Regions from separate parts of the Homo sapiens genome. Here region 2 is linked to region 1. Evidence: fine-mapped expression QTL. Tissue or cell type: thyroid. Region 1 holds a variant in brackets; the other region holds the start of a gene. All regions are shown on one strand. Distances are between the middles of the regions.

The links.
Region 2: it holds the start of PRKG1, and the variant in region 1 is fine-mapped to the expression of PRKG1 in thyroid (GTEx, PIP 0.97).

The regions. Positions count from the first base shown.
Region 1 is chr10:51,115,884-51,124,228 of GRCh38, reverse strand. All of the region lies in intron 1 of PRKG1 (protein kinase cGMP-dependent 1), which reads right to left. Among named protein-coding and RNA genes, the nearest start is that of PRKG1, 46 kb to the right of the region's middle. The variant T/C (reference allele first, on the strand shown) is at 5,019.
Region 2 is chr10:51,070,214-51,078,558 of GRCh38, reverse strand. It overlaps PRKG1 (protein kinase cGMP-dependent 1), which reads right to left and starts at 4,072. Exons shown (of 18, transcript NM_006258.4): 1 at 3,658-4,072. The coding sequence starts at 3,968.

The sequences.
Region 1 (8,345 bases):
AAGATAATCAGAGAAAAAGAAGTACTTGGAAATTAAGAATTAAGGATAGTAGCTTGATCAGGTTCTGATCAAAAGTAGATTGACCCCCAGATCATATCTTCTCTGAGGAATGCGGATGAAAAGAGCATGATAGTGTTTGGATCTCTGTCCCCATCCAATCTCATGTTGAATTCTAATCTCCAGTATTGGAGGTGGGGCCCGAAAGGAGGTGATTGGATCATGGAGGTGGATTTCTCATGAATGCTGTAGCACCATTCTCTTGGTGCTGTCCTCACAATAGCGAGTGATTTTTTCTGAGGTCTGGCCCGTTAAAAGTACATGACACCTCCCTCCCTTCACTCTCTCGCGCCTGCTTTCACCACGTGAAGTGCCTGCCTCCACTTCACCTTCTGCTATGATTGTAAGCTTCCTGAGGCCTCCCCAGAAGCATATGCCACCATGTTTTCTGTACAGCCTGCAGAACCTTGGCCACTTAAACTTCTTTTCTCTATAAATTACCCAGTCTCAGAGCCTCCAGTAATTTTTTTTTTTTTTTTGAGATGGAGTCTCGATCTGTTGCCCAGGATAGAGTGCAGTGGCACATGGCATGATCTCAGCTCACCGCAACCTCCACCTCCCGGGTGGAAGTGATTCTCCTGCCTCAGCCACCCGAGTAGCTGGGATTACAGGAACCCACCATCACGCCTGGCTAATTTTTGTATTTTTAGTAGAGATGGTGTTTCACCATGTTGGCCAGGCTGGTTTCGAACTCCTGACCTCAGGTGATCTATTTGCCTCGGCCTCTCAAAGTGCTGGGATTACAGGCGTGAGCCACCAGGCCCGGGCTCAGGTATTTATTTATAGCAACGCAAGAAAGGCCTAATACGGAGCATGCAAGAAGTTTCTGTTCTTCATTATAAGCCTTTTTTGGGCTGATTTTTTAAACCATATATATGGATAACAGTAATAAAATTTATTTTTAAAGAACGAGGTTAATTAAGACTGTTGTAAAATGTTAGGATTTTTATGCAATCATCTGACTTCAGTCATTGATAGAACTAGTTTTTGGAAGTGTCAATGCCCATCAGGTAAAAATGTAAGTGAACAAGTTTGGTGTATTATTCATTGCAGAGGGAGAATGCATACCACAGGGAACCACCTGTGAGGTAGCTCAGTACAACAGTGTCAGAAGAACCTATTATAGAATTGGGGCTTTTGTTGAATAATTTTGAGGAAGGTTCTAAGGAAGCAGAAGTTTGTCCTACATTGTGTGTTGTCAGAAAGCAGGGGAAATGTTATGATTAGATATCTCAATAAAACGTATAGATAGGGCAGGCTATAGGAAGCCTAAAATTGAACCTAGTAAGGGAGCATTTACTGAGACAGGAAGATACCTGGTTTTAGTGAGAGAGACAGATCTGGTCTATTTTGTAGTATGCACAGTGACACGATCTGAAGTAGGTGGTTTATGACATTATTGATGCTCAACGGGAGAACAACATGGCGTAGTTGCCAGTGTCAAATCAGTTTGTGATAACCTGAGTTCCAGCTATGAGCATCAGATCAGTTGCTGGATGTCACTGGCTGCTTTTTTCTTTCTTAGAAGAAAACCAAGAAGGATATGTCTAGCAATAACTATTGATAGTTTGTGATTTTGATTTACATGAATTGGGTTTTTATATATGAGTTTTTCCTTGGGAAATTACAGTTTCCTTAGTAATCAGAGACCAAATCTTAATCACACGTATATACCCACAAGAGGCAACCCAGATGGGTTAGGTTTTTATTCTTCCCACAGAGGTTAAGACACAGGGCTAACATCACTTAGCCATTATCTGGAAAAGTTAGGACTAGAAATGGTGTTTGAACAAAAGCCTCTTGGTGCTGTGTTGATATTGTGTCCATGTGGCATCCCAGTAAGACGGATGTCTCACTACTGTTTGGGAGAAGGGCATGATGCATTATTGTGATTTGTTCCACCATATGCCTTTCATATGGGTTTTGCCCTTTGCTACACATGTGGGATGGTAGAGCTCTAAGGATTTAGTTCCATTGCTTTAGACCAAAGGGACTTCCGAAGAAGGCTAAAGCCTGAACTGCCAAATGCCATCCTCATTTAATAGAGAGCTGCTAGTTTGTTCCTGGACTAAGGCAACAGATGTTCCTAAGGTTTCTGCCAAAATGTTTAGCAGCGACATGATGCTAGGGGTACAGCAGAAGGTACGACAGATGTACGTACAATACAAGAAGCAGAGGGCTGGCAATGACAAGGGCCTGCTCTTGAGGTAAGTGCCAACAATCACCACAACAGAGAACATTAAATGCAATAAGTGTAGCAGTGTTCCTTAATACTATGCCATTAGGACCATATTTATCTCACTTGTTAACTGTACCATGCAGAAAATTAATGAAATATATTACTGTGCAAGACCATTCACGAATCCAACGAACAGTTAGTGGGTGCCCATTGTGAATGATGTACTGATGGGTGATTATGACATTTTCAAATAGATATGCATATTCTCAAGGAGTTTTGACACCAATCTTGGTGCCACATTATCTGTGTTCTTACGGTTGTCACTTACTAGCTGGGTGGCCTTGGAAAAAATCTTTAAAATTTTAAATCTTCAATTATTTATAAAAATTAGGGAAAAGTACCTTCTGCAGAGAGTTGTTATGAGGATTCAGTGAGATATGACATAAAAAGTTCTCATCTCTGAGTGCAGTACTTCATGAATGTTATCTATTATTATTTGTAATGAAGTTCTTCCCTCCTGTATTTATTTAATTAGTGATAGTTTGAATGTGTCCCGAACAATGTAGAATGCAGAGAGAGAAAAACTCATGAGCCAAAAATTATGCTTAAATGTATCAAAAAATAATATAATAATTTCCTCCATCAAAGACATGTTTCTACTATTAAACAAAAACTCTGCATGCCTGCAGAAAGCAAATAGTGGCTCCTCAAAGATGTCCACTTTCGGATTCTCAGAATTTGGATATATATTACCTTATATGGAAAAAGGGGCCTACAGATGTAATGAAGAGTATGAACATTGAGCTCGGAAGATTGCTCTGGGTTATCCAAGTGGGTTCAATTAATCACCACGATACTTGTAAGTGAGGGAGACAGGAGAGATGATCTCAGTAATGCAATATGAGAAAGACTGGACCTAGACTTGCATTGCTGGCTTTGAAGATGGGATGGGGCCAAGAGCTGAGAATGTGGGAAGTTTCTAAAAGATGCAAAAGACAAGGAACAGATTCTTTGCTAGAGCTTCCAAAAAGGAACAACAGCCCCACTGACATCTTAATTGTAGCCTAGTGAGACCCTCATTAGACTTCTAACCTACAAGACTATACAATAAAAATGTGTGAATTTTTATTCCTACCGTTGCTGTAACAATATCACTTAAGTCACTAAGTTAGTGGTATTGTTACAGCAACAATAGGAAATTAATACAATGTCTCTTTGCTTTATTAAATTAAATTGGCAAAATGACTAAGAGACACTTAATACATGTGTAGTGTATATGCTAACAGAAAAGAACGATAGCTGTTTAATGAAGATTCCACTTGGTCTATTACTTAACTAAGTCAAGTATACCAAGTCCATTATAGAAACTTAAAACCTAGGATGTCATTTCTGGATGGTCATTGCAAACTCCTCTACATGTGCTTGAGAAATTCCTTGAATTTGACAGAGCTGAACTTTTCAGCTTTGTTCAAAAACAGGGGCCAGAAAATGTAGAAGGAAAGAAATTTGAAAATGTTGTGAAGGAAAGACAGAGAGAGAAAATTGTATACTAGGCCTAAAAAAATAGTGATATATGTGAAGATTGACTTCAAGACCTTAAATATCCCTTTGTACACCTTTTTCCTCTTCACAGGGGGCCTTGTAGTTTGTTGTGATTTGGGCAATACCAGAAAAATCGGAATCAACAACCTCAACAACTTTGCCCTCCCTAATATTCATATAGTTAACCATTATTTAGCTTAAGGTAATTTTCTCCATTAAAATTGTAATCTTAGAAGCAGTGAGCACACTTTGTTATTTATAATGGGATTTTACTAAGCTTCTAAATTCTAGACAGCAAGTTCCTCCACCCTGTTCCACAACTATCTTTCAAAAAATAATAAAATGCTCCAAACTTTTTCTTAAAAGTTAAAAAAAAATTCTCAATAAGCCTTACAAACATTATAAATGCAAAAGGGAAATTTGAAAGTAAGGCCTTATTGGCATTGATATATGGAGAACCCACTGAAGCTTAGGACCTGTGATCATTTGTAAACTTTCATGTCCAAGCTCATGATCACTGTTTCTTCTCACTTAAGGAGAGATTAGTTTTCTGTTTTCAAGTAGACTTACTTCTCCATTGATAAGCATAAATAATAATTTTTCTAGAACATTGACTAAAAAATTAATTATTTTTTATACGAATCCAAAGTCTTATTTTAAAATTCCAAAACCTCTGAACTTAATTCTAAGTGTCATTTTATTTTAAAGTATATCAACATGATCATACTGTAAAATGGAAAGATTTGTCTTGTGGTAAAGTTAAAATTGTCATTATATTTTTAGACCATGAATTTTAACAGTCTCTAGAGAGTTAGTGTTGGAATTATGTCCAAAATCAAAACAGGAAATGAACAGGGTCATTAAATTAGAGTAGAAAGTGGTTTTATATATTTTTGTTTTGCCAAAAATTTCTCTATCAAAATATGATCTTTCCTAGATTAAGGCATGATTCTTTTTTCTTGAGAAGCATATTTAACTGTACACATCTGTACCATGAGTCTAAAATGTGTATTTTTGATATTCCAGATTTCTCTTCAAAATTTAATGTATTCTAGATAATCAGGAAAATTTCTCTAATTATGCAAATAATTAAGATTTATAAAAATGTGTTAATATTTTCAGGAAAAAGTATAAGGCAGTGAAAATCACAAAGATCAATAACTCAAAGACTGTGAACATTTCCTTTTATTTTCCATTGCTCCCTGAAAATTTAATTTAGTTTACTTTACCTAAGACATAA[T/C]GTGGTGCAACTGAACCATACTAACTGAATAGGGACACCATAGCCTATATGTTACAAATAATATGAATTTAGCAAGTGAACATTCGGAAGCCTACATTTTCAAACTACTAAGACAGTAAATTTATTGCGTTTTGGAGGTAGTGCAAGAAATGAAGAATTATTCTAAGGACAACTATTCATTGCCTAAAGCAACCTATATTCAGGTCCAAGATATGGCTTAGGATTTCATGATTTCCTTTTTATTTTTTCTAAAATGTAACAGTAACATATCAGTTACTAAGAGACCAGGTTCCAAAATAATTTGAAGCTTAACATTCAGAACCAATATGCTGTTGCTTTTCCCTTCAATTAACCTAGCTTGTTCCAGCAAGAATTCTTTAACTCCTTAGCAAGCTAAACCATAAATAGGCACAACAGCTATAGTCATTTACTGTAAATTAAATAGAATATTCTGCAGAGACGAATAGAACAACAGTAGGTTGCAGAGGGAAGACGTAGGAATCAGAACTGTGTTCTAATTGAGATACTGTCTTCAGGGAAGTTTCTTTACTTTCCTGAAACTTGAAGTACTCATTCGAAAAACTGATGCTAATAAGAATACCTATCTCATGGTGTTAGTGTAGAAATTATCGAGAAAATTCATGGAAAACATTTAGTACAGTATTTGGCACAGATAAAAGTACTATACGAAAGCTTTCTGTAATGATAATAAACAGAGTTATTATCATTTTTAATGGTTTCTTAAGAATTTAAGCTAATTTAGAAACTCACTGAATTCAAACATTACTTTTAGAACCATTTTAACTGTCTTTTTTAAAGAGCAGATATTAATTTACTTTCTATAATTAAAATGGCATGGCACTATATTGATCTGAGGATTCCTTTTCTAAAATTTACCCTTAAAAGTAATCTGCTTTTGCACAGGAAGTTATTTTTTGTTTTATTTTTTATTTTTTTTCAAAATCCCATTATATCCACTTCTCTTTGCTCCATCAACTTTTAAATGGCCTTTGGCCAAATGCCATAAAACACTGACCTAAAGATTGCTGCTCTGCTCTTAACTGTGTCCTGAAATAGTTTTAATGGAACTTAGAACCTCAAAGACTCTCAGGGTTAGGAAGGATCTCCAATGCCATGTAATTCAACTTCCCTTCCCCTCATCCAACATCTATGACATCTGCAAGTCATCACTGAGATTTTAGTGAAAACCCCCTAGTGATAAAGACATCACTGCCTCAAGAGACAGCTAACTTTCAGACAGCTGCCACAAAAGTTAGAGCAGTTGTTAAGAAGCCATGGAATATCTCCCTAGAAAGAAGCAGATGTTCTTGACTCATTTTTAAACATAGAACTGCAATCATGTTTAAGAAAACAACTTAAAAGCTCAGCCACATCCCATCTTTACTCCGTTGAGAGCTGTTACATAATGTATTTTATTTAAGGAATCAATAAGGTATGTTATATGAGCATAGCTTTCTTACAAAGCTATCAAAAATTGTTTCTTCTGTAGTAAAGCAATGCCTCCATTAGAACTCTGTCTTGTCTCCTTTATCTATGAAATGGAAGAAAGAATGCTATCCACTTCCTAATTGTTGTGGAAATTACATAAGATTACCCATATCAAACACACACAGTACCCACACAGTACTAGGGACATAGTAAGCATTCAACAAACCGTGGTAAGCACCATAAATAATGCCCATGAAGTGCGTAGCAACATGCTTGGCTCATCGTGTACATTCCAAATATGTGATTATTACTCATTAGGCCATTTGCTTCATCAGCCAAGACCTCAATTATTGCCTGTGAAAAAATACAGCTTGACAAGTGCTACCACATGAGGAGCAAGATAACTGGTTAAAATGTTGATAGAATATAACAAGAATGTAACACCATTATGGACTTTCCCAATAAGGAGAATTTCACCATACTGTGCACAAAGAAGCATTATGGGACCCATGGCAAAAGCAGACCTATGATTGCTTTGTACCAGAGTGAAAGACCATGCTGTGCTGTGTTTAAGAGTCCAGGTTCTCTATAATTAGGATACAGGGTAACTGAAATTGGGGAATACCCATGAAGCATTTCCATGTTCATTACAATACAGAAATATTACTTCCTCAAAATTGGCTCCACAATAAGAGAGAGCAGAACAAATGGTCATGTACAGGTTAACTAAAAATGTCACATTTCAAGTACGTTTCTCCATTATCTCTCAGATCTACCCATTCCCTCTTATGATTCCACAGCCTCCAACAACCCTGTTACCCCATGCCTTCAACAGCCACTTATCTGATTCTCCAGGCTCCCACCTCTACTCATCCTGCACAGAGATGCCAAAGGGTGGAACAATCTTCCTCTGATAGCAATGCCATCTTCTTGCTCAGGAATTCCCCCGCTGTTCAATATTGCTCATGGTATCAGATCTTACCATCTTGATCCAGCCTTCCACCCTCTCTCCCATCATCTCCCACTGGTCTATTAACTACATCTTGAACTCAGCCCCCTCCAGGGATTTCAGAGGAAATGCTTCCTACCATCATCCCACCAGTTCCTGCCTTTCCTCCTCCAAATCTAGCTCAGAATTCAATTCCTGTAAGAATTCCTGCAGACACCTTTTACTGTTCACTTCCTCAACTTCAGCTTTTCTGTATTCTGTTTGCATCATATTAACATTCACCTCCTTGCATGTTGATTTCAAATGGCTTTAATCCCCATGATACATGAATACTGTTCATCCCAAATTTACTGGAATGTCCTTCCAGGATTAGTCCATGTCCTTCATTTCATACAGAAGCCCAATAAGCCGTGTCTTCAGGGACTGAAGAGTTCTAGTTCTTCGAAGGGATTATAATTACATTCTACTCATTTTGAGTGAGGTGCAAATCATTTCAGTGCCCTCTGTTTTGTTTCTCTTCTTCAAGAGGCAGGAAATGCATGGTTGAAATAATTCAGAGGGGCAGAGTGCTTATATGTTCCGCCAGTCTACCGTGGATAATGCCACATTATTGATGCAGCATTTTACCATTCACAAACTGACCTCACATTTGTTATTTAATTTGAGCCTCAAGTAAATTAAGCAAATTACTCACCTTTCTCAATTAGTTACCGACTGGCAGAGTTGAGAAAAAACTCCAAATCTGTTGAGTGAAAGCCCAGTACTTTTCCACCACCACACCAGAACTGCCTCCCTACAGTGAAGCTCTCTCCTTCGCCCAGCCTATACATGTACTCGGTCTCCTCTACAAGAACAACATTGTCTTGACTTTCCATTGCTACCCTTTGCCCCTGATTTCTTCTCTATGTTTGCACTATGACAATTCTTAA
Region 2 (8,345 bases), 46 kb after region 1:
AGTACTTCGCAATGAAAAAGTGAAACAGGGGCCAGGTGTGGTGGCTCACATCTGTAATCTCAGCACTTTTGGAGGCCCAGGTGGGCTGATAACCTGAGTTCAGGAGTTCAAGATCAGCCTGGCCAAAATGGCGAAACCCCATCTCTACTAAAAAAAAAAAAAAAAAAAAAAAATAGCCAGGCATTGGTGGCACGTGCCTGTAATCCCAGCCACTCAGGAGGCTGCGATGGGAGAGTTGCTTGAACCCTGGAGGCGGAGGTTACAGTGAGCCAAGATCGTGCCACTGCACTCCATCCTGGGTGACAGAGTGAGACTCTGTCTCAACAACAACAACAAAGGAAAAAGAAAGGAAACAAAATAGAACATGGAGTGAAAGCAACAGCTTACAAAAATACAAAGACACTAACCACTTTTAGGAACTCAAGTCTATATAATCCAACTGAAATGACTGAAACCCTGTGACATGAAAATGGAAAAGATTTGGGAATATTTTCAAAAGATAAGGGGTTTAGATCAAAATTTCAGAGACTGAATGTTCTAACATGATATAGAATCAATTTCAGGAATGAAACTTCATGAAATAAAATTACTTAAGTCCATAAGAACTATTCTATATAGGCAATCAACAGGCTATCTGATCTCACATAATGAATGCTTAGGTTTTGTTTTTCATTTTAAGGGTTTATTTGCTCAGTTTATTTCCAAATATAGTTTAGTAGTTTTACATTCTCAAGGAGTTATTTGGTAGCAGTGGAATACAGATTCCAATTTGCTACATCAGTTCTTTCCTTCACATAAGTATTGTATCTATACAGATTGTGAAAGAGACCAATAAAAACCCTCCTCCTACCTCATAGTTATAGCAGGAGTGTCCTGGCTCAGTGCTGGAATCTGACAGAACCTTCCCTCCAATTCCCACATTAAAGGAAAAATTCCAAGCCAAAAATGTTAAAATGATTCAAGTTATTAAGTTAATTTACATTTTATACTATTTTTAAATGACCAAATTTACCAAGAAACCAGAACTAAAAAAAATTATAATCCTCAGAAGGCAACCTTAGTAAGTAAAAACTAAACAGATATATTTGCATATATCAGATAAATGAACAGAACATTAGCGGGGCAGTTACCTACATCTAAAAAAAAGAGAATCAAAAACTAGCATGAACGTAAACTGGAAATTAATGTGTCTATTTAGATAGTTTCATTTTAACTGGAAACTCACAATAATCTATATGTATGTTTAAGAAAGATGGCTACATTTAAGATGTAGTAAAGATGAAATACAAAGACACAAACACTTGTTGCCAGTAAGTCCGTGTAATCAAATTATTCATAGTGAAATACATTGAAAGGCAAACAAGTCTTCTTTGGTTTGGCAGGTTTTCTTAACTCTTTGTGGAGCTACCTTGTACAACCATTCAAACAACATAAGATTTATTCATTTTGCATACAATGTACTTCTTTTTTCCCTAAGAAAGGTACACTTTCTACTACTCAAGCCAATTTTTTTCTAGTTTTCTTTATGTAAGTGTGAAAAAAGAACAGATGTTTTTCCAAAATTATTTAAGCTTGGAAGGCATTCTATCATTTTCCTCAATAAAATACTTCAGAGTCACCCAAAGCATCATGGCAATACCTTAAGAGCTGAGTCCTTTAAAATACAAGTTATTAGTAAGAAATCAGTATCAGGACACACAGTGTTGTTTGATAGATAAAATGTTATTATAATGATAGATAAAATGTTATTATAATGGGATGCTGTAAATTATTTGCCACACCAGCTTTATTTTCCACTCTGGACCTTTTTCGTTTGTTTGTTTTTCAATCTAGATATTCTACAAGTCATGTACAAAGAGGCTTTTAAACTTATCACATTGTATAGCTCATTCCCTACTGCCTAGAATCTTGTAAATCTCTGATGGAATGTGTAACTGGAGTTATCAGCTGGCTTCAACATGCTTCACTATGAAACCTATTAAAGTGGTCTTTTTGTAAAAGCAGAGTTTGCTCTGTGTCACTCAAAAGTCCTGCGGATACAAAAATGAGATCCTATGAAATGTTTAAAGATGCAGAGAGCTGTCTTTGAGTTATTTTTTCATTATGCAAAACTTGGCCCAGGAGAGATGGTCATGTACCTCGTTAGCTAAAACAGTCAGGCATGTCAGGATTGCAAATTAATTTACCAGAGAAAGTTGAAGTTTATTCAGATCACTCAGGTTTCTAAGGCAGATCTAAGTCTGCTGAACTATTAGGGCAATTTGGTAAGGTCAGAATCTCAGAAATGTTTATCCTTATTGTCTCTTTCCAACTCCCTCGCAGAATACAAACTCCTCCCTAAACTAAGCCTGCATGAACAGCAAATGTTCCATGGGAATCAACATGTATAGGTATAACTCTAAGTTTTCAAAAGTAGTAATTGGTACATGCTGTGATTCTCCCCAAAAAACATCCAATAAATACAAATAGAGATAATCAAATATTTACTTTCTCCTTATATTAACTTGTTGTATTTATGAAGTGAAGGGTTTCGATGGACCTTGCATTATTACGTAACACGTGCCATCCAGCCAATGTGATTTCGTTAGTAGTAGAGTAAGCAGCAATATCCTTGGTTTTATCAATTACGTTATTATCTATTAATTTAAAATGCCGTTCTTTTGGGTGCTCTCCCACATTCTGTTAACCTCATGTTCCTGTCGCTTTACTCTCCATATGAACTCTGAGTTGAGTGTTGTATAACAAGTTTCATTAAATTTTTCCCATCCAAGTTATGAAGCCCACTAACATCAGAATTGCACAGTTCCCTAAAAGGCTAGAACAATGCCAGAGTGGTTGCATTAGAAGCCAAGAGTAAGGCAAACAATGGGTCCACGTTTTAAATAAGATAAGTGTGCTTATCTGTATCTGACCCTGGAAACAAGCAACCACCTCTTGGGAGATGGAGATGCTCCATTAGTAACATTATGCACGTTTCTTAAGTAAAATAAGCAATCTTCTCCCTCATATGTTATGAAAAAATATTTCTTCAAAATCAACAGACTAGTCTTCCATTTATGGATTGTAAATGTCATCCAATTCAGGAAATCAAAAATTCTTCCTTTTTCTATGCCTATTTGCTTATGTTTCACACTTTGATGATGACAAGAACGTCAGGTTTGAAGGGTACCAGCGTGAAGCGCCAGCAGGTAGAGAAATCCGGGAGAGCCACAAAAGCATAGAAAGTATGGGTGATCAGACGCATTTCATTTCAAGTCTGATGAGCCTGCATTTAGGATTTTCCAGCTGGGCTGGTTTGCCAGGGCTTTTGGGAGACGGGGGCTTTTTATTTCTTCTCTCACACTCACACACACGGTCGGACACACACCTGGGACGTGTTCAAACTCTACGTACACTAGGTGGCTTATACGAATGTATATGTATATTTAAAAATAATACCTTGACATCTGACAAAGACACGAAGGCAACGTATGTGCAGTGAGTCTGGCTCTGAGAAACGTGCACAGCCCCGCAAGAAGTGCCCGTTAAAATGAAACATTTCTGAGGATGAGGACAGACATGGCAAGCGGGAGGGGCGGGGGCCGACAGACAATACAGAGACCCGCAGCTCCCCATCGCCAGGGCGCCACATGGACCCGGCGCGTCACCCCTGCTTACTGTGGGCTCTTGGGGTAGAAGGGCAGGGTCACATGGCTGAGATCCTGGATGTCGAAGGCGGTGGGCTCGGCGGAGATCGCCTGCCGCTTGGTGCGCGGCTCGCCCTGCAAGGTGCTCGCGCTCTGCTTCTGCGCCTGCTGGGTGGCTGGTCGGATCACCGAGCGGTACTTGTCCAGCTCGTTCTGCAGCTTCTGGATCAGTTCGTCCTTCTGATCCAACTCCAGCTCCAGCTCGTCGATGAGAGCATCCCGCTGCCTCAGCTCCTCGATCTTCTCCTGGAGCGCGTACTGTAAATCCCGCAAGGTGCCCATGCTCCTCCGGGCTGCCGGGGGCTCCTTCCTGCCGCTGCTCCGCGTCTTGAGGCTTCCTCCCCTCTCCGATCAACTTTCCCCAAAGTCGCCGCTGCCTCCCGAGTGCCAAAGCTTCCTACTTGAGACCAAAGCCAGCCCTGGCTTCTGAGCATGCCCAGTCCGCCGGCTCCAGCCACCCAGAGTTTCAGTGCAGATTCCACTTCTCTGGGCTGGCTGTGAGGCTCAGAGCGGGGAGAGCAAACCAGCAGGTCCAACCCGGGATTAAACCTGAGACGCGGTGGGCGCCGCGGCGCGGGGGAGAAGAGTCGGAGGCGCGGTGGCGGGGGAGCGGGAGGAGGGGACGTGAATGGGGGCTCCGAGGCAGCGGCTGGGCTCTCAGAGTCCCTCGCGCCGGGCGCCCAAGGAAGCTTGCGGGGCGTGCGGGGAGCCTGATAAGCCTCCGAGGCGCGCCGGGGGTGTGCGGGTGGAGCGAGGCGGGAGCGCTACTTCGGGGGTGGGGAGGTGGGAGGGAGGGGACAGGGAGGACCCCGGGCAAACTCGGGAGGCCTCAGCTGACTCCAGAGCAGACCAGCCTGGAGAATGTTGAGCTACGATCCTAGCGACGTACGAGGCATAGGGGACTCTGCATCATCAAAGCTCTGAGTTCTGGAGGTATTTTGACGGCCGGCCTCACTAAGGAAAGCTCCCGAGCGGTGTGGCCGAGCTGTCGCTTCTCCCACGCCACCTTTCCCACCCAGAGCGCCTCACACAGGTGGCTAACGCTTGCGAAGAAACTTGCCTCTCAGGAGATGCGAGCGAGTCGGCGCCCGCGAGGAATTCCCCCTTTCAGCCTACTACCTTTGGGAAAGGGTTGTGGGGTAGGGGGTGGGGTTTCCGATTTTAGCACCCGAGGCGTTGCTACTCTTCGCCTGCTCCAGATAGTTACTTTCCTTTCTGCCCCTTCCAAACTCTCATCGGGGAACTGTTTTAGGGCAAAGGCCAAAAACGGATTTGGGCCCTAGCAGGTCACTCAGCTTCCCCATGAGCCCTCCGCCTTGAGCTGGTGCCTGGGAATAGTTCTCGGATGGGCCTTGCTTCTTCCATTTGCTGAATTTGGCGGGGAGAGGGTGGGGGTTAAAAATCATTCCCGAGCTCCAAAAATTTCATCTTGAAACTGAATCATACCTTTAAAAATATTACTTTCCTCACAACCAAGCTGTTAGGAATGTATCTTTCCACTTGAATGGCCAGGAAGACATCCTGACACAAACTTTGAAGAAGAGGGAAAATCGTGAAGGAGCGAGGGAGACCACGCAGGCTGCAGTGAATTGTACACTATACTGCAGTCACCCCCACCTCTACCCACTCCCACCCTCATCCCTGCCCACTCAATATTCCCCAAAATGATCACAATTAGGTAACTTCCTTTCTATCCAAGTGTTACACTCCCATCATGGGAACACATGTTTAGAATCCCCAAATATCTGCCTAATACGTACCTAAATCCCTAATATTTGCTTAAGACATTACGAACTCATCCAATTTTATAGCATCTTTATTGGCAGATTTTTGATTACTATTCTTGGGCACTCAATATTATAATCCTCAATGCTCTATTTGGTTATTCCTTAACACTAAAACAAAGTGGACAGAAAATAAAATTGAATTGCAATGCAATTCTAAACTTAGCAAAGAATAGTATCAAAATAACTTGCACACTGTTGCTTTTGAATACACAACTTTTTGTATTTAAGCTAGAGACAGAGGAAGGGAGGAAAGGAGGGAGGGAGGTCAAGGTATCTTAACAAGCTTGTTCATTTAAAGTGTCCTTGTTTTTAATTAGAGGACTAAATGACAAAATATATAGTCCTAAATATTCTTTTATGTAGATTATGATCTAGTAATTCTCTTAATGCAGATTACACAAGACACTTCATTTTTCTGCTTTCCAACACAGACTTTCAGAAGTGCATTTATTTCTAAATGTGATATATAAAATGGATCATTCTCAAAACATTTTCTTTTGCAATGAAGAAATGAGCAACTTACAAATATTGAAAATAATAATAGCTCTGAATTACTGTTGTTTTAATTAAAAGTAAACCAAGCAGAAGTACTGTGACTTTGTATAACTCACTGTATTCTAAAAAAGCTTCCATGAAAATTTCCTTCTTCTGGGCAAAAGGCCAAATTCTTATTTAACCTGTGGGAATTCTTTATTTCCATGGGAAAATGTTGAATACAAAATGACTTTTTCCTATAGATCTATTATTGGGGTTCATGAAGCCATGAGTTTATGTCTAAAAATATACCAGATACAATGTATAGAGGACATAATTAGACAACTGCTAAGCTGGGTTCAGAATTCCAGGATTTTCTCTTTGTTTTTTTTTTGTTTGTTTGTGTGTTTGTTTTTGAGACGGAGTTTTGCTCTGGTCACCCAGGCTGAAGTGCAGTGGCGCAATCTCAGCTCCCTGCAACCTCCGCCTCCTGGATTCAAGTGATTCTCCTGCCTCAGCCTCCGGAGTAGCTGGGACTACAGGCACCCGCCACCACGCCGGCTAGTTTTTGTATTTTTAGTAGAGACGGGGTTCACCATGTTGGCCAGGATGTTCTCGATCTCTTGATCTCGTGATCTGCCCGCCTTGGCCTCCAAAAATGCTGGGATTATAGGCATTAGCCACTGTGCCCAGCCATCTCGTTCATTTTTAAAGTGAAAACAAATATTTTAAATACGTTTTTCATTGATGTTTTAGAGTTTATTTAGGGTTTAAATGGGGTTACTTAATGTTTTTGAGCAGCACAAAGAGAGAAGGTTCTTCCTCATTTGTAGAAAGTCTGTCTACATGTACAAAGGAAAATAAAAACTAAAACACTTTCCCCAAAAATAAAAAAACCAAAAATATTTAGGCATTTTGGAAAAAAGTGAGTTTTTTTACACTAAATTATGTAAATACTTATCAGTATTTAAGCTGGCATATCTAAATGCAACTATAGGATGTATACACATTACATTTTCATTTTAAATTTACATCTCATGATATAAAATCTGTTCCAGGATGAATCTGATATTGAGAGTCAGGAATCTGTTATAACAAACACAAATAGAGTAAAAAGCTGAAAAGACATGACTTTTACAATTGACTTTAAAAGGTGTTCAAGGAATAGAATATATTTAGTTATCTCAGGCTGTGTTATTTTTTTAAATTGACTTCCCCTTAAATGCTTTATAATTTCATATGCAAAATCCAGGATTCTAGCCTTTTCTCTTTCATTTTTAAAGTAAAAATAAATATTTTAAGTATGTTTTTCAATGATGCTTTTGACCAGCTGTTTAGATCTTGAGCGACCAGGTTTCCATCTCAACCTTTTGAGTGTTTCCAATATTTTCTTAAACATCTTCTGCGTTGTACTTAGTAAATGCTGGAAATAAACCCTATGTGAAAAATCAAAGTCCTGCAATTACGTCTTAACAGACAAATTATCTTTACTAAGTGTCATGTAGTAAACTTAATTGGCTAAATTACAAGATCAAAGATCAGGCACAAGTCTACTTTCTGCTAATTAGGAAGTGTCTACCTCAGATTCCTTCAGGGATAGAGTAGAGGAGAATGGCTTGATCTGAGCCCTGCCCCACTGCCTATCTGAGATGAAGCTTTGACATTAGATGCTAACAGTTAGAACAATGCAATTTTGAAGGAACTGACTTCATACTCTAGAATTCCAGAAACAACTCACAACCTGTTTTTCAGCAGTCTTCCTTTTTCATAACTTTAATAGAAGCAAAGTTCTACTGGTAGCCAGACCAAACTGTGGCCTGTTGAACTCCAACATGCTCTTTAGTCTTGCACCCAATCCTCATAATTGAGAATAAAAACTGACATGCCTTCCTTAATGGATTCTCAGAATCATTTAATGAGCTATTCCAATAAAGTAGCTTTATTATAATACTGGCTATTCAAAAATAAATCTGTAGAATTTGTCATCCTTCACTAAAAACATAATTAGCCCAAAAGAACTGTGCTAATTTTATCCACTTATCCATTCCACTGACACTGTATTTCCTGGAAGAATCTTAAGTTTTGAAATTTTCTTCTGTCATTTCATGTGTATATCTTGAATGGGAAAAAATAAACAAACAAATATATAGCTGAGCCTTTCAGGAGACAGAAGCTTCCTCTGGCAGAAGATTGCTAAAAGTAACAAGTCCTCCTAGGAATCTAGATTTTAAAGCTATTACTGGCAGACATGACGGTCTGTTCTAAGTTGCTAATCATAATCAAGATCACAAAAAATTAACTAACTTCCTTGACTTCTTAATGCATGATAGGTATTGTTCATACAACCCTATAAGTTCAATATTATTAATATTCTATTAATATTAGAGAAAATGGAGTC